Linked DNA regions of Homo sapiens: region 1 is linked to region 2. A link means that fine-mapping ties the variant in region 2 to the expression of a gene that starts in the linked region. Tissue or cell type: subcutaneous fat. Region 2 holds a variant in brackets; the other region holds the start of a gene. All regions are shown on one strand. Distances are between the middles of the regions.

Region 1 (10,929 bases), 100 kb after region 2:
GCCTCCCTTTCCCAGGGACCACAGAGACTAAAAGAGAAGGTATAACCTAAACTGGAATCAAGGTAACAGAAAGAACTGCCTCTGTCTGGACGGTGGCAGGAAGGGCCTAACAGTGCAAGGTAGTACATTGCAGTTGACCTGTGATGTATCAGATCTCTGTAGTTAACTTGGAAATTCCAGACTTTCCATGGCCAAATAGTCAAGCACCTTAAGACTGCTATGTGTCATAAACAAATAGACACGACAGGGAAAGAGCAAGTCCCGTGGCTTAGACCTTGAGCAAGAAAGCCCCCTTTTCTCTTGGTTGGTGATGGGGACTGCTACCAACACTAGCAGCACCAGAAGCTGGCCAGAGAGACTTCTGTCCTGGGACCAAAGGTGGGTTTTAGAGATGTGCTGACTCAACTACACAATTTTATTATTATTATTATTTTTTTTTTTTTTTTTTTGAGACAGAGTCTCACTCTGTCGCCTAGGCTGGAGTGCAGTGGCACGATCTCGGCTCACTGCAGCCTCCGCCTCCCGGGTTCATGCCATTCTCCTGCCTCAGCCTCCCGAGTAGCTGGGACTACAGGCGCCCACCACCACACCCGGCTAATTTTTTTTGTATTTTTTAGTAGAGATGGGGTTTCACCATGTTGGTCAGGATGGTCTCGATCTCCTGACCTTGTGATCCGCCCACCTCGGCCTCCCAAAGTGCTGGGATTACAGGCGTGAGCCACCGCGCCTGGCCAACTACACAATTGTTGAGAGCCTACCCACTCGAGGCTGATCAACAGCCAAGGCTAGGACAGTTCTGCTGGGACAACCAGTCCCACGTCTTCCTCGTCGAAGGCACTCCCCAGTGGCCTTTTTAAAGCAGAAAAACGACTTGTGGTAGCTGCATTTGACAATGAAATTTCTCATATTTAAATCAAGCTTAGAGAAAAGGACCTCATATAAGTTCAGATTTTGACCTAAGAAGGTTGGACAGGAATGAAGATATAATGCTTTTTCTAAAACAGGGCTGGATATAAGTAGGGAATGTGGCACATGTGTACTCTGAGAACTGAGCTATGAAAATCAGTGCATGTAAATCCCTGTTGCCTGCCTACCAATATCTATTCTCCCCTTTTTCCTTTCTGACCAAACTCCAAGTTTTTTTCAGGGCCACAATGTACCAAACTTAAAAAAAAAGAAAGGAAGGGAAAAAGCAAAAAAGGAAGAAGAAATGAAAAGGAAAAGAAAGGAAAAGAGAGGAAAGGGGAGGAAGGAGGTAGTGAGGGAGGGAGGAAAGAGAAAGAAGAAAAGAAACAAAAGAAGGAAAAAGAAAGAAATTACAGCAACCAGCCTTCCCTGCTGCATGAGGTGGCCATGTGACATTTCTGGCACCTGAGATGTAAACCAGGTCACTTGACAGTTTTTCAAAGAACTCTTTAAAGGGGAAGACTTGGCTGCTACCTGTCTTCTGTCTTCCATGAGACTCCCTTCTGCCTGGAATAGGAAGACAATCATGCAGGAGCCGCCACCTTGCACTGAAGCATTAAGTATGAAAATGAACACCATGTGCCAGGCCATACCCTACGCCATGTGCTACGAATGGCTGAACAAGATGGCAGCGCCATGGAACCCCAATTTGGTTAACCCACTGGGTTTTCTGTTATGTGCGGCTAACCCTACACGTTGTAAAAGATCATTTGCTTTGCAAAGGCCTTTACTGAACTGACTGGCAAGGCGCCATGAACTAGGAATTAATTTGACTTACAAATAACTTTCTGACATGAACTAAAGATAGAGAATAACACAGACATATACTGGATGAGACTCCTCCGCTACCATATGCTATTCAGACCGAATCCTGAAGTTCTATTCATAAATGTAAAGATTGTCGGTGTGGTCTAGATGTGGCCTTGGGAAGAAACTCCTGAGAAAATGGAGTGGAGTGAAGCCAAACCACCTGCTCTGCTGGGTGACATCGGTCAATCTGTGTGTGACTCGGTTTCCTCAACTGCAAAATGGAAATAACTGTTCCTACCTCAAAGGTGGTGGTGCCTATTAAATGAGCTGATATTTGTACAATGCTTAGACATGTGCCTGACACACTGCTTAATAATTACTGAGGATCCACTAACATTACGGTAAAATTGGTGACAGTGTAGCTAAACATTAATAATAAAAGCCAGACAGGTTAATTCATTCTGTAGACAAGAACTTCTTTCCTAAGGCACACATCTGTCAAATAACAAGGAGGTGAGATCCAGCTGTCGACTGTGGCCAGGTTTAGACAGTTTTAAATCTAAGGCCTTCTATGGTTCTCATAATCGCCCTACCCAGATTCATGCAATACCAAGAGTAGCAAAGTCTACATGAAGAGCTGCTTATCAGTAGCATGTATTTATAAAATAAAGGTTGGGTAAAGAGATTAGCAAAGAGCACTAAAAATAGTCCTATAAGCAGACGAGCTTTTGTAAGTCGATAGTTCATTAAAAAGTCAATACTTGAGCATCATTATTATGAGAAATATTCAAGTAATGGGTCACGCAACTTGGAAGATTGCAGCCTCTTATCATCTTAGCCATCTTTTTTAGATTCGAACACAGAACGTATCCAGGTCTTTCTACTAAGCTGTATTTCAGGGTCCAAAAGGGCACAGGCATTTTGTATAACGTAGTCAAGTGCCAACCACAGGTATGTAACCTAGTAAGTATCGTAGGTATTGAGCCAGCCATAGATGTTCTTTCAGGTCAGGAGAAAACTTTTCCTAGATGAAAGTAACTCAACTAACTGATAACGTCAAGGCAACTGGCTAACAAAAACGTTTTAATCTACTTTCCCTTTTAAATACTCAACAAACATAACAGGATGTGATTTTACGCTTCTCCTTTTCCAATCCCAAGAGGGACAAAAACAACAACAACAACAACAACAAAACCAGACACAAATCTTGAGGGTGTGAAGATCTCACTCCATAATCTTCCTGTGCGCCTGTTACCATTTTTCTGATTGTACATTATCAACTAAGCTGGCAGAGGCTCAGAAAAGCCAGGGTGATAAGATGTAACCCTTTCTTTCTGCTACAGCAGAACTGTCCAATAGAAATATAATGGAAGCCACAAATGTGAGCCCTGTGTTATTTTAGATTTTCTAGGAGACATATGTAAGAAGGTAAAAATAAACAGGTGAAGCTTATTTTAGTAATATATTTTATTTAACCTAACGTATCAAAATACTATCATTTCCACATGTAATAAAAAGTATTAAGATATTTCATGTTCTTTTTTTTCATACCAAGTCTTCAAATGCCATGTGTATTTTAGACTTACAGCACATTGCAATTCTAACCAGCCACATTTCAAGGGCTGCAGAGCCACAAGTGGTACTGGTTACTAAGTTGGACAGAGCGGCTCTAGAAGTCAACAGTAGCTGAAATTTGCAGTGTCTCAAGTTGGCTCTATGAGGGACATACAGATAAAATACATATCAACTCAGTTTCAGGAAGCTGCCAGCCTAGGGAATTTGGCAGCATCTTGAATGGAGGAACACACCTCATTTCAAGCTAGCGTGGGCATGGATGGCTTTTAAGCTCATGCTTCCTACCAAGTACTGGCAATGCCACTTACTCTTTACCAAGGGAAACCTAGTCACCAAGGCAGAAACATGTGTTGTTTTTAGCTTCATTTTATATAGGAGTCCAGGAAATTCTGCTCACTTGACAAACCCGTTCTCAAGGAGTTCTCCCAGAGGAGCAGGAAATGGTCAGACATACCCACTGACACACCCCACACACCTCGGACATCCTATTCCACGTGGTCTATGTGTAAGTCACAGGCGTGAGAAATGAGATGTAGCGGTGATCAGTTTTCATTATGCTGCAGCCATGGGTGGGACGGTTTGAAAGACGACCTGGTCTTACCAGTATTACCTACCTCACAGGCTTACTGTGATGACCAAGGACAATAACAGAGAGAGCTCTTAGCAAACTGTAAAGCGCTACACAATTCTAGTTATTACTGAGAAAGAACACCATTCCTCACCTGGAAGAGCAGATAGAAAAACAAATAGTAACTTGAAACAGAGATGTCGTTGGGGGTGGGGGGAAACCATGAAAATACAGATTGTTCTTGGTGGACTTTGTTCTCTTGAAAGTACAGAAAAGGGTTGAGTAAACTCTAGTACCTTTCCCTCGAAATCGTAGGAGACATTGAAAAGTAAGCGAGCCAGCTAGGAGGACAAGCTTCTACCTCTGCTCATTCCCCCCACCACCCCCCCACCGCCCCAGCCCCACTGCCTTCCTCATCCCAAATATTGTATGAATCAAGACAGTGGTTCCAAACAATTATATTTCTCCTTCCCAGTGCTTACATGTGGCCTGAAAATGCAGCGCCACCGGGGATACTGGCGCCTCCCGGAGCAAAAGTCACTGCCTCCCGGGGAGTCCTGGCTCGAGGTTTCTCCCTGGCGCAAATGCTATGGTGTTGGCTTTTGCGCGGCCCTCTCGCCTTCTCCAACAAAAACAGACAGGCTCGGCGGACCCGCCGGAGTCTCCCTCTACCTGTCCGACAGCCCTGTCACGCCTGCGGACGGCTCTGGGCAGGCGGCATGGACGAGGTCCCGCGGGAGTCACCCACACAAAGGCACCTTGTGCCTCTGCACTCGGGCCCCCGGGTCGCCGGGCACCGCACCGGGGCCAGGCAGGGAGAGCGCCCCCCGGCCCGAGTGCCGAGTCCCGAGATCGGCATCCCCAGCCCTCAACCGCCACAGAAAGGCCACCCCTACTCCCTGGTTTAAAGATAGGGCTCCCCTCGGCTTGCCACAATCCGCACCCTGGAAAGGAAGAGCTCGGAGCAGGTACGAGAGATAGGAGCGCACAGGCCACTCGGCAGAAGTTTGCATTGTCACCGGGCTGTGCCCTCACCGCTTCTCGCCGGGAGGAAGGGCCAAGTACCCTCTTCCCCAGCTCCTCGTCCGCCCCATCCCCGAGGCTGGAGGACTCCGGACCCCCCCAAGGCCCGCGCACCTCTAGTCCAGTCCACCACTTGTTTGGGGCTCCACTTGGTCACGGGTTCCATGGTAAACCGCTTCGCCTCTCGCTGGGCTGGAGAGTCGCAGATAAAGTGCTGCTGCCTGCGCTCCGGTGCCCCTTCCCGGGAGGGCGCGCCCGCGGCTGCTCCCCTGCGCCCGAGCGACTCCGTCAAGACTGCATGGCCGCGGTCAGCCAGTCGTCCCAGCGCGGCTCCGCCAGGGGAGCCCGGCCCTCTCCCTCCAGCTGCCACAGTCCAGCTGCAGCTCCTCCTTCCCCCGCCGCCGCCGGGATCCCGGGCACAGCTGCTGCTCCCGAGCGACGGCAGCTGCAGGCACGCCGGGCTGCGACCCCAGACCCCTGGCCTCGGCTCGGCACGGGAGCCTCCCGGCCCGCGACCACTTCCTCGGATCTCTCGAGGCGCGATCGGCTCTCCCTCGGCCGGTCTTCTCGCCTGCTGGCTCTCCGGGGTCCCCGCTCCGCGTGCGCTGGCGTCCCGGAGCCTTCCCGGCGCAGGTCCCACCTCCTGCGCCGCCCTCCCGTGCCGCCCTGGCAGGGCCGAGCGCAGAGCGTGCGCGCTCGGGTTGCAAAGTTTCAGCTCCGGTTGCTGCAAACCGAATAAAAGAGAGGGCGGGGCCGAGGGTCTAGGGAAACTCGTGGGAGGGGGCGGGTCCGCCCGAAGCGGCGGACTCGGGTTACTTTCCCTCTCTAAGCCGGTCCGGCTCACACCCGCAGCGTCCCGGGCCCCGCTTTCCTTTTCAAGGGGCGGGTTGTAGATCGCGCGCGCACCCTGGAGAGCCCGCTGGTTTGTGTGAGGCCCTGGCCCTGTGGGTAGCAGAACACTCTGTCTCGCTGTGAGCAACAATACACTAAAAAAAAAAGAAAAGAAAAAAAAAAGTAAGATCTGCATGTTCTGTTCATTTTAAATGCTTTATATCGTAATACTACTCTGCCATTAAGCCGTCATTTTAGGTTTCTTAAAGTAGAACAATTTTTTTTTTTAGATGGAGCCTCGCTCTGTCGCCCAGGCTGGAGTGCAGTGGCGCGATCTCAGCTCACTGCAGCCTCTGCCTCCCAGGTTCCAGCGATTCTCCCGCCTCAGCCTCCGGAGTAGCTGGGATTACAGGCGTCTGCCACTACGCCCGGCTAATTTTTGTATTTTTAGTAGAGACAGGGTTTCACCATGTTGGCCAGACTGGTCTCGAAATCCTGAACTCAGGTGATCCGCCAGCCTCGGCCTCCCGAAGTGCTAGGATTACAGGCCTGAGCCACCGCGCCAGGCCAGAACAATTTTATTTCATTTATATGTTGACTGAAATCGTAACAATGTAACTCTTTTAATGCTATTGCTATGAAATTTCAACTTTGCGACTAAAATTAGATTGATGGCTTTTAGCGTTATATTTTGCTATATTATAATTTCATATTTACAGAGTGAGCTAATGCTCCTTGGGATTAGTCATTAACCGTGAGAGGAAAGCTGTTAGCCAAGAAAAAAAAAATAGCTCGTGCACAATTTCAGCGCCTGGCAGGGGAGGGCCCTTCCACATTCATGGACTGCAACTGGGGCCAGAGTTAATGCTAAACTGGGGGAAAATCTAATTTGAATGCCTGCCTCTCCTTCAAGTTCTCCCTGCATCCTAACCGCCCCCCCAACCCCTGCCACCCTCGCCACCACCCCTCCCCTCACCCCCCAACACCCCCCCCAACCCCCCACCCCCGCCCCGCCCCGCCCAGCAACCTCTTCCTCCCACTCTTTTTGGCACTGAATGATTCTTACTTTCAATTACGGTTATTTATTTACATCTTCCTCTTGGAGACTATTAACCCCTTGAGGGCAGAACCTACTTGATCTCATATAGAGTTTTCTCTCCTCCCTTTCTTCCTACCACCTAACTTGTAGCACCCAGCACGGGACCAAAGGCAAGGTTGGTATTTATTCATTCAGTAAATATCCGGGAATGCTTCCTATGTGCCAGCCACTGTATTCATTCAGTATTTGTTGAATTCGTGTGATATGTGCTACTTACACAGGTCTGTTTGGACGCACATGTGGAAAAATAGCTAGCAGCCAGCCTAGCATCTGATGAGCTGGAGCATCCAAGCAAAAGAAACATTTTTAAAAAGCAAAACATCAGACCCACCTCCCATTCAACTCCCCTAGAGGACTGGGCAACACAGAGACACACAACTATCAAATATAGTGATTCTTTTTCTTCATCTAGCGAAAGTGACTGGCAGACCACACAAGTTGGCAAAGGCAATGACAAAATTCCTGATATAGTAGTTGTCCTTAAAAAAAAAAAAAGACCTTTAAACTTAATGACATCCAGCATTAACCATCTTTACAGCAGTCAGCAGAGAGAAGGACCTTGACACTGGTTCACTGGAAAGGGTAACCAACCTGATGCACACCTTTTGTTTCAGCAATCACTGCCTGTTGTGTGATTTCTGATTATGATTAGGGTGACCACATAACTTACCTCCAAATCAAAATATTCTTGAGCATGAAAGAAGCAACTATCAAGAATTACATTGGAATAACATGAATAAACTGGGCCATACGGTCCCCACAATTATAAAAGAAAGGTCAAATATTAATGATTTTGCCGTGGAATTTTACTTGATGTTTTCACGTCTTCAGATTCATTGGCAGTAGTCTTTACCAGAAGAGCTAAAACACTAAAATTCTGCGAGTCAAGCAAGAGTTTGCAAAACATCCCACGGAGCCAACACACTATCTATACTTGGTACATAAATACAGCATAGCTAAAGAGGAAGGCCACGCTAAGATCTCTAACCCGGAAGACCAATTAACTATCTAAATGAATTAGCATTCTGTTTACACTTCAACTTCTGGAAGCTAATTACTATTTAAATAAAGCCTTCTACCTTAATTACAGCTGTTAGCACGTGAAAGTTTTAGGGAGGCCTGCCTTCCTAGCTGAAATGCAAACTTGAGGACATACAAAGCTATTAATGGCATACAAAGCTAATAAAGGCAGAATCTTAAGTAAATGGCTTTAAAAATTAAGTATATATAAAAGGATAATTTGTAAATTTGCTAACTTTTCTTCTCTGCTAGCTAAAATCTGTAGCTATTACACCATATGTTCACGCACATTACCAAACTGCAGCTATGCCATCTTCCAGATCAGAACTCTTCATTTGTGTCTTAATGTTTACTACAATTCCTCGCACATACAAGGAGTTCAATAAGCCTTTTTAAAATTGAATTAATATGTAGAACAGATACTAGAACCCAGATCTTCTAGATTTCTTTCCAGCTCTTCCGTTTTTCTGACTTTGACCCTTCTTGCATGTTTAAGTCATTTATTCAGTTGATGAAATACGTATTAGGTACTCACTAAACTAAGCACTAGGAGGATTCAGAAATGATGAGTAGCCTTTTAGATCAAAAACACCATGTGACTTTCTAAAGGTGGATTTCTTCTGTAGTCTTTCATCCAAGGAAAGTGACCTGGTAAATAAACACAAACAAGGGAGTTCGAGGACCAATGTGATATTAACGTTTTAAGCTTGTTCAAAATTTATTACTTCTTTATGTGAGAGCAAGGGATGGAGTATTTTGGATTGGTGGTTATACCTATAATTTGATAAACACAGAGGAGCAAATTAAGCAAACTTTTAAGCAAATTATTAATCTGCAAAAAGCCAGTCTCCTTCCCCAGTTAAAAACAATGTAATGTTTTCCAGAATAAAAGAAAGAAAGAAAGCAAGTTGCTCTAAATATTCAACTTTATTTCGCAATCTGAGGTTCTTCTCTTATTTTCTTTCCCTCACATTTCTTTTTAACTATTTTCAGAAAATTCAAAATTATTTAATTTTTTCACATATAATTGTCTCGTGTATGTTCTTAAGTTATCTTTTATCTTGAGAGATACCAAAAACGTCTGCAGTTTTCTGCCTGGAAAATATCCTACAGTTAGAGCTAAGCATTCTTATCTATGACATTACATCAGTGCAAAGTCATCACTGGTTAACTAAATTATCCAGACTGCTCATGTTCTTGTCTTTCATTTAATTCCATTTGGTCTGAATTCTTCACACCACGGTAATGTAGTTATCTCCCTGAACATGCCAGGTTCCCTATCAGATAATTCAGGTAGTAAAGACTTCAAACTTTATTATATTTTATTTTTCAAGTGCTGCCTCACTTATTCAAATTCTTCTGATCATTCAGGAACGTTAAGTCATTCTACAGTTGGAAAGCTGGTATTTGGCTTTCTTTTACTGAGCCCTATCTCTAACTCAAAGATCAATGTCAATTAGATAAATATTCAAAAACCTCACCTACTTTAAATCATACTTGGAAAAGTTGATTAATCTTTTCTAATAAAAAGAGAAACATTGATGTTGCTAAATTCTATTTTCAAGGCCTTATCGTTGTACCTTGGAAGAGTTGATAGATGAGGCAGTACCCACAAAAGAACTGGATGTCCTTGCCCTGAAGTGCAGAAGCTACTAACGAAGGAGGGTGCCACAGACAAAGAGGGAACAATCAAGCCTGCATTTTTTCCTGTGGATTTTTATTACTTTTTGTACCCCCTATCGAGTTGCAGATTATCCAAAAAGAACAGAATGCCATTTACACCAGCTGTTCTTACAGTTCCAATTTAACTTTATGGGACTCATAATCTCAGAACAAGTCAATATAATACCAAGAGTTTCAGACTCGGTGATTTTTGCTTCAATCATAAATTCTATGCTGATAAGGACAAAGTCTCAGGGTGAAAAAAGATTAATGAACATCACTCTAAACCTAAAAATAAAACAATAATTAAGTTAGGCAATGTAAAAATATAACATTTGGAAATAAAACGCAGATTTGGCCGGGGTTGGTGGCTCATGCTTGTAATCCCAGCACTTTGGGAAGCCAAGGCGGGTGGATCACTTGAGGCCAGGTGTTTGAGACCAGCCCGACCAACATGGTGAAACCCCATCTCTTATTAAAAATACAAAAATTAGCTGGGTGTGGTGGTGGGTGCCTATATTCCCAGCTACCCAGGAAGCTGAGGCAGGAGAATCCCTTGAACTCGGGAGGCAGGAGAATCCCTTGAACTCGGGAGGCAGAAGTTGCAATGAGTCAAGATCATGCCACTGCACTCCAGCCTGGGTGACAAGAGTGAAACTCTGTCTCAAAAAAAAAAAAAGAAAGAAAGAGAAAGGAAGAAAGAAAGAAAGAAGAGAGAGAGAGAAAGAAAGAAAGAGAGAAAGAAAGAAAGAGCAGGTTTGAGTATCCTAAACGCACTAAGCTAAAATTTTTTAAAATCTCTACAATGTTAACAAGAACATAAAAATAGTTTATATATTGTTTTATGTATTCAAGACACTTCTAGTAAAAATAAATAATAACAATTTAAAAATATGTATTGTTTTATATTTTTCTAACTTCAGTTTGGCATAACAAATATTTAATAATCCTGTTTCAAATAAAATAGAAATATATACCCAAATGCCCCAGACTATAACTAAGGAGCTTTAATTAACTTTGAGCTCAGTCTAAAAGTTGTCTGCTCTTCCATTACTTAGCTACCATTCCATACAGAGGAGGAGACTTTCTTCTAGTTTCAACCTACCAAAGGTATTTAAATTCTGCAGCCATTGCTAATCAACACATCCAGATTTTTACTAAAGGCACATATATGTTTCCCCTTTGGGATCCTTAGACATTTGAGCCTGTAACAGGAGACTATTCCTTAATTTTCCACAACTAGCTCCTTGCATTTGGAAATACTATAACCATTTGGGATGGGAGAGCGGTGGAAAGAAAAAGAACGTAGAAAAGCAGGAAGTGTTTCAGTCTACTTCAACATCAAAAGGGAAAGGATGAAAATTAATACCAATCAGGGTTTCCTGTAGGCAGTCAGATGATTTCATAGGATTTTGAGAACACTCCCAAAGGTCTC
Region 2 (10,929 bases):
TGAGCTGAGATTGCGCCACTGCACTCCAGCCTGGGTGACAGATTGAGACTCCATCTCAAAAACAAACAAACAAACAAAAAAAACCAGCCTGACTGAATTCAGTCACAGTAATTATACATGAGTGGTTGCTAGTTCCTTTAACCACACCAGAAGCATTTTAAAGGGAAGATGTTTCCTAACTCCAGTGATTTTCATGGGCTGAATTCCAGGCAGTTCAGCAAACTCAACAATTCCGGTGGTATGAGAAAGGGCATTTTGGAGTAGGAGATTTCGGCTCTGCCTAGGAAGATACCTCAGAAAATTCCCCTCGTGCAATTTCACTTTGCATATGCTTCTCCTGTTCTTCCATTTCTAATCCATAAAATCCCAAAATGCTTGGGAGGGTTTATTTTGATTTTTTTTAACAATACTGCCCTGCTGGCAACAGCCACGATAGTCACTTGCTCATCTGAAAATGCCTTGCACTTTCTTTTTCACTAGCTTCGTGTATGACGCAAAACAGAAATATTTCAATTACAGGTGACTAAGAGTAAGAAAAATATACAACTATATTTAAAATACTTAAATTAACAAGATAGTACTTTTCCATTCTAACAAAATATCATACATTCAGTTTAAACAAGAGTTAATATCCAGACACACGTTTTCAAAATACCTGATGCTAGTTGAAAATTAGTGACCATGAGGCTTTCCAAGATATTTCTAATTAGCAAACTGTGTACAATTTTGAAGAAGTGTACACACCGTGCTGGAAGACAGACACTGAACAGGTCAAAATGCAAACTCATGTATCTTTCATCAACCTAAATCTTGTTGCTTCACTTTTCTAAATGATACTTTGGCTGTCAGCGAATCTTATAGCTTCTTTTCCCTTAAAGACAATAATATATAACAACACCACCCCACACAAATAACCATAAACTTCTTTGTGTGAAATAAGCCCTATCAAAATGTGTTCATGTATTTCTGTACCAACTGATCTATACTGAGACTGTCATGAAAAAGGTATCAAACAAGTGTAACAGGCCTACACTTAAACCTCTGCCTCAAAGGAGAAATCAGATACTTGCCACGTTATTGCAAAGTCAAAGCTGCTACACTTAAAATATGGTAGATAGTTTAGAAAAATCAAATCAAAAATGTTTTCTCACTGGCTTTTTCAGATAAAGAAGTTGGACCACAAACCAACACATCTGTGTGAAAACAGCCACCAATTTGAGTCCCCCCAGCCCCTCAAAAAGGAACAATGCCACCAGTCCCTCACAATGACCATAACGTCTCTGGCCAGGACTGCGATTTCTAGCGCGTGTCTTCACATTCTATCTCTGGGGAAGCAAGACAAACAGGCTCTACCCATTTCCCTCCTTTTGTCTCCACAAGCCAGCACCTAAGATCCTCTGAATTTGTTCCCATCCAATCCTGCAAACTTCCAAGAAGGGCAGTAGATAACTTTTCAAAAGAAAAAGAAATTGCATAAGGTCCCTACATAATACTGAGGCTGAAACGAGAAGAGGCTGTCCACTGTAAAAGCAAGGCACTTGGGGCAGGAGCCAGGCAGGTGGCCTGAGCAGGGTCCCTCTCAGTGAGTCAACAGTTTGAGGCGCGTAAACCAGCTGACCAGGAGGGACGGTTCTGTGGACGAGGACTTCGTAGCTGAGGAGCCAGATTTCTTTTTGGTCCCTTCCTCCTGGAATGGAATCGTGGCGCTGCTGTGGAGATCTGAGTTGATGTAGCACCTGCTTCCTCGGATGTAGTCCGCACCCCGGACCAGATGCCGCTCGGTCGTGGGTCTGGAGAACCGGTATGGGGGAGAGGAGCTCTCTTCAATGATCGGAGGAATCCGCTCGTTACTGAAATACCGGCAAAGGGCATCCTCCCCTGTTTCCAGACAAAGTCCATTAAGTCACAATCCCAGCCGGGCGTGGTGGCTCACACCTGTAATCTCCGCACTTTGGGAGGTCGAGGTGGGTGGATCACGAGGTCAAGAGATCTAGACCATCCTGGCCAACATGGTGAAACCCCGTCTCTACTGAAAATACAAAAATTAGCTGGCGTGGTGGCGGGCGCCTGTAGTCCCAGCTACTCAGAGAAACGTTTGAACCCGAGAGGCGGAGGTTGCAGTGAGCCAAGATCGCGCCACTGCACTCCAGGCTGTTGACAGAGCGAGACTCTGTCCCCTCCAGGAAAAAAAAAAAAAAATCACAATCCCCTACACAGTGCTCTTTGGAGGGCCCTCGGCCTGCCCAGACTTCTGCCACCACCCTGAATGTGGGCACCATACCTTTACTGCTCTCCTCCCTGGATTGGCCACAAGGTCCCACCTGTGGCTGGGCCCACCAATGGGTGCTCTGGAAGCAGAAATGGGAAGGGTCCCTCATACTTTAGGCTGCTTTAGCGCCTGAGAGGTAGCACACGGGTCTCCTTTAGTGGGTGGGGACCATAGAGTGTAGTGTCCCCGCGATGGCTGAACAGAACTGTTTATGCATTGTTTAATGCAGGGCATTCAAGCTGGGCATTCAGGAACATTCCCGAACAAGGAAAAGAGTGATCCTGCCCTAACTGCCAGCAGACCCCCTGGGATGTGGCTGGAATGTTAAGAAACTGAATAGAAACTTAAAATACAGTACACTTTGGTAACATGTAGCATCCTTGTGAAGCGGAAATTCTACACCCCAAAATGTGCAAAGATCTATGGACTCACGGATGCTTACTGAAACATTTATTTTTATGCTTATTTTTATTTTTTGAGACAGGGTCTCACTGTCATTCAGGCTGGAGTACAGTGGTGCCATCTCAGCTAGTTGCAGCCTCCATCTCCCAGGCTCAAGCGATCCTCCCACCTCAGCCTCCCAAGTAGCTGGGACTACAGGTGCGCACAACCACACCCAGCCGGTCTCGAAATCCTGAGACCAAGCAATCCACCTGCCTCAGCATCCCAAAGTGTTGGGATTAGAGGCATGAGCCACCACACCTAGCCTACTGAAACCTTTTTCAAATTTTAGAATTTGAATTTTAGAATTTTCTAAATTTTCTAAATTCTAAGTTTTCTAAATTTTAGAATTTAGAAAATTTTAGCCTTTTTCAAATTTTAGAATTTGAAAAAAAAAAAAAAAAAAAAAAACCTAAATTTCCAACAGTGGCACGTTGAATAAATAGGCGCTAGAGCCATAAGATGGCATTCTAATACGGCTATATTCTTTTCAAATATGGTGTAGATAATATTCATTTTTACATAGTATTATTGAATATTTACTTCTCCCCTTTTTTTGAGACGGAGTCTCACTCTGTTGCCCAGGCTGGAGTGCAATGGAGAGGTCTGGGCTCACTGAAACCTCCGCCTCCCAGGTTCAAGAGATTCTCCTGCCTCAGCCTCCCGAATAGCTGAGACTACAGGCGCCCACCACCACACCTGGCCAATTTTTGTATTTTTAGTAGAGACGGGGTTTCACCATGTTGGCCAGGCTGGTCTCGAACTGCTGACCTCGTGATCCGCCTGCCTTGGCCTCCCAAAGTGCTGGGATTACAGGTGTGAGCCACCGCACCTGGCCAACTTCTCCCATTTTGCACATTTTTCTAAGTATATAAATGTAAATACAGGAACAACTGGAAATCACACGAAACATTCACAGTGATTATTTCTTAGGTCAGAGAAACAGATTCCAGCTGAGTTTTATTTTCTCATGCCTTCCATGTTTTTCAATGTACTTGCTTTGCTTTTGTAATGAAAGGGGAACAGTCACATTGAAAAAGTGCCCATTGTCAAAAAGCCACATGTTGCATAAGTCTATTTATATGAAATGTCCAGAACAGGCAAATCCACAGAGTAGATGAGTGCCTGTCAGGGGCTGAAGAAGGACGGAATTGGGAGTGACTGCTAAAAGGCACAAGGTTTCTTTTTGGAGTGACAAAAATGTTCTGGAATAGTGGCAACTGGGGTACAACTCCGTGAATATACTAAAACCCACCTGACTGTATATTTTAAAAAGCTGAATTTCATGCAAAGAGTTATATCTCAATAAAACTGTTATTTTTTTAAGTGGCTGTGTATAGATAGATACCTTTATTCCAAAACAATCATGCAAGAAAAATATGCAAGGAGGAGTGGAGGGAACAAGTATTTTTCCATTTCCCAATTTCACACCCCATAACCCTGACACTTCATCTCTCCATGTATAAAATAAATAAAAGGCTCAACCCTGGCTCAGATGAACGGCAAGGAAGATGTTAACGTGTCTAAATCTAAACAACGGACAGCCCTGCCACCTGCTGACTGCTCCATGGATACTCACACGTTAACTAAGGGGATCCTGAATGGTAGGTACCCAGGCATCTTTCCCTTTTTCACTTTAGCATAATACAGGTGATATGGGTACTTAGGTGACAAACTTTACCAAGTCCCTAGAAAGGGTCAGGGGTCAATCAATCCCTTTGGAAGGTTAGGCTTCCAGAATTTTTTCTTCTTCCTTTTACTATCTAAAGCCTATTGTACTTTAACTTTTCAACTGCCCTTTGTTTCAACAACTGCAAAAACAATGTTATAATGTTCTGCCAATGATGACAATCAAATGCAATCTGGCAATAAAATGAGAATGTTTTAAAACATTTCACTCAAGACCAGCATAATAACCAGGGACTTTGATTACAGGGTGAATTAAACACAAATTTCTTTTCAAATAGTAACTGCCTTCTAACATAAGAAGGACTTGGAAGAAAAAAAAATCCATGTTTGTTCATCAGAAATCAAACAGACTCCAAAAATAAAAGCAACAAAATTTAGAATAAGATTGTTTAATGAAAGCTGGGCATGGTGGCACACGTCTGTAACACCAGCTATTCAGGAAGCTGAAGTGGGAGGATCACTTGAACCCAGGAGTTCAAGGCCAGCCTGGGCAACATAGTAAGACCCCATCTCAATTTTTAAAAATAAATTTTGAAAAAGATTGTTTAATGAATAATTTATTTCTATTCATTAAAAAATTAGACTATTGGCTGGGTATGGTGGCACATCCCCGTAATTCCAGCACTTTGGGAGGCTGAGGCAGGAAGACCACTTACAGCTAGGAGTTTGAGACCAGCCTGGACAACATATTGAGACTCTGTCTCTACCAAAAAAAAAAAAAAAATTAGCCAGCCGTGGTGGCGTGCACCTGTAGTCCCTGCTACTCAGGAGGCTGAGGCAGGAGGATCACTTGAGTCCAGGAGCTCAAGGCTGTAGTGAGGTATGATCACGCCACTGCACTCCAGCCTGTGTAACAGAGCAAGATCCTGTCTCTAAAAAGTAAATGAATAAAAATTAGACCATTAAAGTCTATAGCCTTTTTACAGCACTCAATGCTAATTAGGATATTTACAATCACTAACTAGGATTATATAATTTTGCCATTCTAGAAATAAGTAGGATCTTAAAGATCTTCAGCAGTCCTAATTTTACAGATGAGAAAACGGGACTCAGAAAGGCCAAGTACTCAGTCTACTTATTATAACACATTTAGAAACAGAGGTGAAACCAGGCCCTGGGGCTGTTCACTCCCCATTTGCTGTTCCTTGGTTTGCTTGGATGAAACGTACCTTTCCTGCCATGACCTCGAGGTCTGGCAAAAGGGTCCACAATCCCCATCCAGTTCCCATCAGCAGGCATGGACAAAGGCCGTGGCTTGCCTTCAGAGGGACGAGAAAGAAGGTGACAAGTTTGATGAGTTCTGGAACTTTAGTGAACCGTTCCCTTTATGTATAACTTAGACCTCACAATACCACACCCACTTAGACAGAAGCAATAACAAATTTTAAAATAAAAGTATTTTAAAGCACTGTATTTCCATAGCAGGAAATAGAGTGCTACTAAGATAGAGGCACATTAAACTTGAGCCTGTGAGTCTACAGAGCAAAGCAACTCCAAAGCTAAAACCCAGGCACTGAAAGTTAAAACTGTAACATGATCTCACCCAGTTGGGCTTTCATGCCAGGCAGAGTAATGACTCAACAAGGATCCGCTTGACAGAG[A/T]TGAATAAAGGTCTCATACTTAGAATTTCATTGAGGTTTATGTTTTCCTCAGATTACTCTTGAAGTCTGCCAAATTCATCCAACAGTTCCAACTAAGGCAGGGGGCGGGGAGGAGAAGTCAAGGCCAACGGCAGAACAAAACAAACACTTGAAACTTACCATAAGATGGTGTTTTCTCTCTCATTTTTGTGGGCAGAATGTTGGTTTCCACCGAGTACCCAGGCAACTGATCCGAGTCTGCAATGGTGAATCTTCGTCTCCGGCTTTCCTGGTCCAAGAAGGAATTCGGGGACTCTGAACCCTTAGGACCAGGCAATGGTTGTTTGCACTTACTGGACCCTCCATAAACAAAACTGCCATTCTCATCCCTGGAAGATAATATGGACAATAATTAAGTTGTTTACAAAGATGTTCTCATACTGAAGAATTCCAGCAGTGCTGCTACCTCCAGCACACAGAAGATAATTTAAATTCTCCTTTTCCACTGGAGGAAAAGCATTCCTTTTGTCAACCCCAGTTGCCGCTCAAATACATACAGATCCTATTAAATAAGCAAAATACCATGACGTGATGAAATAAGAATAAATGCAGGCCGGACACAGCGGCTCCCGCCTGTAATCCCAGCACTTTGGGAGGCCAAGGCAGGTGGATCACCTGAGGTCAGGAGTTCAAGACCAGCCTGACAAACAAGGTGAAACCCCATCTCTACTAAAAATACAAAAATTAGCCAGGTGTGGTGGCAGGAGCTACTTGGGAGACTGAGGCAGGAGAAGTGCTTGAACCCAGGAGGCGGAGGTTACAGTGAGCTGAGATCATGCCACTGCACTCCAGCCTGGGCAATGGAGCGAGACTCCATCTCAAAAAAAAAAAAAAAAAAAAAGAAGAGTAAATGCAGGGTTTTTTTTAATATCCAAACAAATATAGCTTTGAAAAGACAGCTCTAGTTTTCCTGTGCTTCTGTGTGTAGCTGAATATCCTATTTACTACAGCAATCACACATTAAGGTATGCTCTAGCGAACCACGTTGCTCATGCCAAGAGTCGGATCTCTGCCAAAATCCAGCAAAAAAGACTTGATATATTATGAAGTTGTTAGATTTGAAAACCATGTCAAAAGATACAAAGGAACCTTTATAGTAACCAATGGAGAGTGATTCTTTTCTGAATCAAATACTACAAAAACCAGCAAAAGTTGGATCACTGATTCCATTCTAATTCTATCTACATGTCAGTTTAAACTGTAGGATTAATTTGAGTCCAAGTTACCAGCTGCTTAGTTTTTTTGCACTTGGTAAATTCCATTAGGCAAATCAGGACAAAAACTGCTAGACAAAATACAGAATCAACTGAGTCCCAAAGCAATCTACTAATCAGCCATGTCTGTGTGTGGTATTCCCAGGTGGGATGGCATCCACCTACCCCTCCCACCCACAAATATATCTCCTTCCATACCTTTAAACCGGGCATATAACTCCCCATTCACAAAGCTTTCATGACTCATGACTTGTTTCTCAGTAATCCATTCCCATTTTTCATTCCTCAGAAAATCCTTCATGAGTGGTGTGTGTGCACTCTCAAAAGCGTCTTCCCGAGCAGTTTAATCCAGCTCTCCTCCTAGCCCCAGGTTCCTTTATCTCTCACTATGTACACAGCACCCCTTTTCTTGCCACTACTCCAGGAACCCAGACAAGAATATTCTGGATCAAGGGAGGGTGCCTTCCTCCAGTTTCTGATAGAACAATCCACACATTAGTAGTGGAATGTCATGCTCTCTATATGCAGAGGGAAAGACTACCTGTAACTTTAAACACACTTAAGATCCTGCAAACCAGAATGCCCCGATCACCTGAGGTACATTCTCTACACGCTATAATAAGTTCTGAGTAAGCCAAGACTCAAGGAAATGGAAAACAATGTTGAATCTCTGCACCCAATGCAGAAGAAATACAATGAAGCAAATACCTCAGCTTCAAATGAAAACCAACAAACAAAAAATTCTGATAGAAAGTAAAATGTCACTGTAATAAAATCCAGCCTGAACTTTGTTTTATGAAATATTATAACCTAATCATATATTTCTCAATATATGCTTGAATTGTTGAATAAGACCCTGGCAGTTCTGTAGGGTCAAAGACCGAGTCTGTTTTGTGTCAGAGGGTAACCCAGACCCAATACTCAGGAAAGATATGCTGAATAAATGAGCCAGATTGTCTAGTTTTATCAACATATATAAATATGTGAGTTGATAAAAATAAGCCTAGATCACACCTAAATCATCCTGTACACTCTATATACCACCCTCATTATACCATACAGTATTCAAGTTAGCCATGAAGAAAGCAACTATCTTTTTAAGAATTTATGGTACACACACACACACACACACACACACACACACACACAAATATGAAATGTTCATACCTACACTCACAAGGTCTGAGTTTTTCTGTTTTTTGTTTTTTTGTTTTTGAGACTAGGTCTCACTCTGTTGTCCAGGCTGGAGTGCAGTGGTATGATCATGGTGTATTGTACTGCAGCCTCGACCTCCTGGGCTCCAGTGATCCTACCACCTCAGCCTCCTGAGTAGCTAGGACCACGGGTGCACACAACCACACCCAGCTAATTTTTTAAATTTTTTGTAGAGATGGGGCCTCACTATATTCCCCAGGCTGGTCTTGAACTTCTGGGCTCAAGCAATCCTCTGAACTGGCCTTCCAAAGTGCTGGAAATATTGGCGTGAGACACCATACCTGGCCACATAGGTTTTTTTTCAAGTTCTATGAAGAACACATCTTTCTCAGCAAAATCAAGCTGCAACTCTCATTAATCTCACAGAAATACTTATTATCTACCCCCTCAAGATGAATTTACCATGGAGTTAATGAAACTTAACCTGCAGGGCCCCCAATAGACCCTTCCAAGGCCCCAGGAGAGCACGTTTTCATTCGTTTTTCAAAAGTAAGGTATTGCTATATCCTTTTGTTTCTTTTTTGAGACAGGGTCTCGCTCTGTCACCCAGGCTGGATTGCAATGGCACAAACTCTGCTCACTGCAACCTCCACCTCCTAGGCTCAAGCGATTTTCCTGCCTCAACCTCCTGAGTAGCTGGGACTACAGGCATCTGCCACCAAACTCAGCTAATTTTTGTATTTTTTTATAGAGATGAGGTTTTACCATGTTGCCCAGGCTGGTCTTGAACTCCTGAGCTCAAGTGATCTGCCCGCCTCAGCCACCCAAAGTGCTGGGATTACAGGTGTGAGCGACCACACCTGGCCAATACTGCCATATTCTTTTCTCAGAAGGGCCCTCCCCACCAAACTGTATAGCTTCAAGCCCCACAGAACCCAGATATGTCCCTACACTCCTATAAAATAAGGCTGATCATACTTTTAACGGCAGTTCAAGATTCAGCCCTGTCACACTGTGGCTCAGCAACTTCCTCTCTCAAGATCCTCTTTTCACACCACCATTTACAAATGACACCAACAGGAGACAAGCATACCATGACAATGGACAGCAACATACCGGGGAGAGTAGGGAACAGCAGGCGGAGGAGGAATATAAAGATCCAGGATGGCTGACTTCTCCTTCTTCAGTGAGGTATCCATAGTGCTTTCAGGGGACTGGGTTGTCGCGGGTGGAGGTGAGGTCTGAAACAGGAGTAACACAGCAATGCAAAGAGTGGAGATCAATTCAGAGATGATTCTTGGTGTTTATTTCCCCTCCCCCAAACCAACACCAACCCCGTGTCTGAACAGGGACTGAGGTCATTCATGTGTTTACAGATATTGGCAATATTTAACTTACATTCTTCTTTGAAACCTTAGAATGAGCTGAGGGATTTGAATGACGATGTATAGTGGCAAGAAGCAGAGGCTTAGGAGCCAGGTGCCAGGGTTATGACTCTAGCTCTGAGCAAATCACTTAAACATCTGTGGCCTCCCTTTCCTCTTCTGTAAAGGAGTGATACTGATAATATCTCTTGCATAGAGCTGCAGTGAGAATTAGATGAGTTAGTTCATGAAAATTACTAGCAAGGCTGGGCACGGCGGTTCTTGCCTGTTACCCCAGCACTTTGGGAGGCCAAGGTGGACAATGGATTGCTTGAGCTCAGGACTTCGAGACCAGCCTGGGCAACATGGCGATACCCAGTCCCTACGAAAAAAATATAAAAATTAGCCAGGCGTGGTGGCACACGCCTGTAGTCCCAGCTACTTGGGATGATGAGATGGGAGGATTGCTTGAGCCCAGGAGGCAGAAGTTGCAGTGAGCGAAGAGTGTACCACTGCACTCCAGCCTGGGTAACAGAGTGAGACTCTGTCTCAAAAAAAAAAAAAAAAAAAAAAAAACAAGAAAGAAAAGAAAAGAAAAAGCAATCAGTAGCAGTGCTACTATTGACTAGGAGTATTGCTTGGAACTCTGGATGTGATCCTGGCTAGACTTACTAGCTGCCCATTTTTTTTTTTTTTTTTTTTAAGATGGAGTCTGCCTCTGTCTCCCAGGCTGGAGCACAGTGGCGCCATCTTGGCTCACTGCAACCTGTGCCTCCTGGGTTCAAGTGATTCTCCTACCTCAGCCTCCCAAGTAGCTGGGATTACAGGTGCGTGCCACCACACCCAGCTAATTTTTGTATGTTTAGTAGAGATGGCGTTTTGCCATGTTGGCCAGGCTGGTCTCAAACTCCTGACCACAGGTGATCCGCCCACCTCAGCCTCCCAAAGTGCTGGGATTACAGGTGTGAACCACCACGCACAGCCCTTATTAGCTGTTTATTGTTGAGCAAGTCACACAATGTCTCTGTGCCCCATCTATAAAATGAGAATAAATAGGGACAAGGATAGCACCAACATAGGGTGGCTGTGAGAATTAAGTAAGGTAACACATGTAAACAACTTAGGACACTGCTTTCCCATAGAAAATACACAACCTT

The links. PIP is the estimated chance that this variant, and not a neighbour inherited with it, causes the effect.
Region 1: CNKSR3 starts here. The variant in region 2 is fine-mapped to the expression of CNKSR3 in subcutaneous fat (TwinsUK, PIP 0.95).

What each region holds. Positions count from the first base shown.
Region 1 is chr6:154,505,067-154,515,995 of GRCh38, forward strand. It overlaps CNKSR3 (CNKSR family member 3), which reads right to left and starts at 5,619. Exons shown (of 13, transcript NM_173515.4): 1 at 4,997-5,619. The coding sequence starts at 5,048. It overlaps LOC101928868 (a long non-coding RNA gene), which reads left to right and starts at 5,725. Exons shown (of 2, transcript XR_001744422.2): 1 at 5,725-5,896. RefSeq lists a cis regulatory region at 8,878-9,118.
Region 2 is chr6:154,404,775-154,415,703 of GRCh38, forward strand. It overlaps CNKSR3 (CNKSR family member 3), which reads right to left. Exons shown (of 13, transcript NM_173515.4): 10 at 9,525-9,649; 11 at 6,160-6,368; 12 at 5,569-5,658; 13 at 1-1,878. The coding sequence ends at 1,580. Among named protein-coding and RNA genes, the nearest start is that of IPCEF1, 53 kb to the left of the region's middle. The variant A/T (reference allele first, on the strand shown) is at 6,001.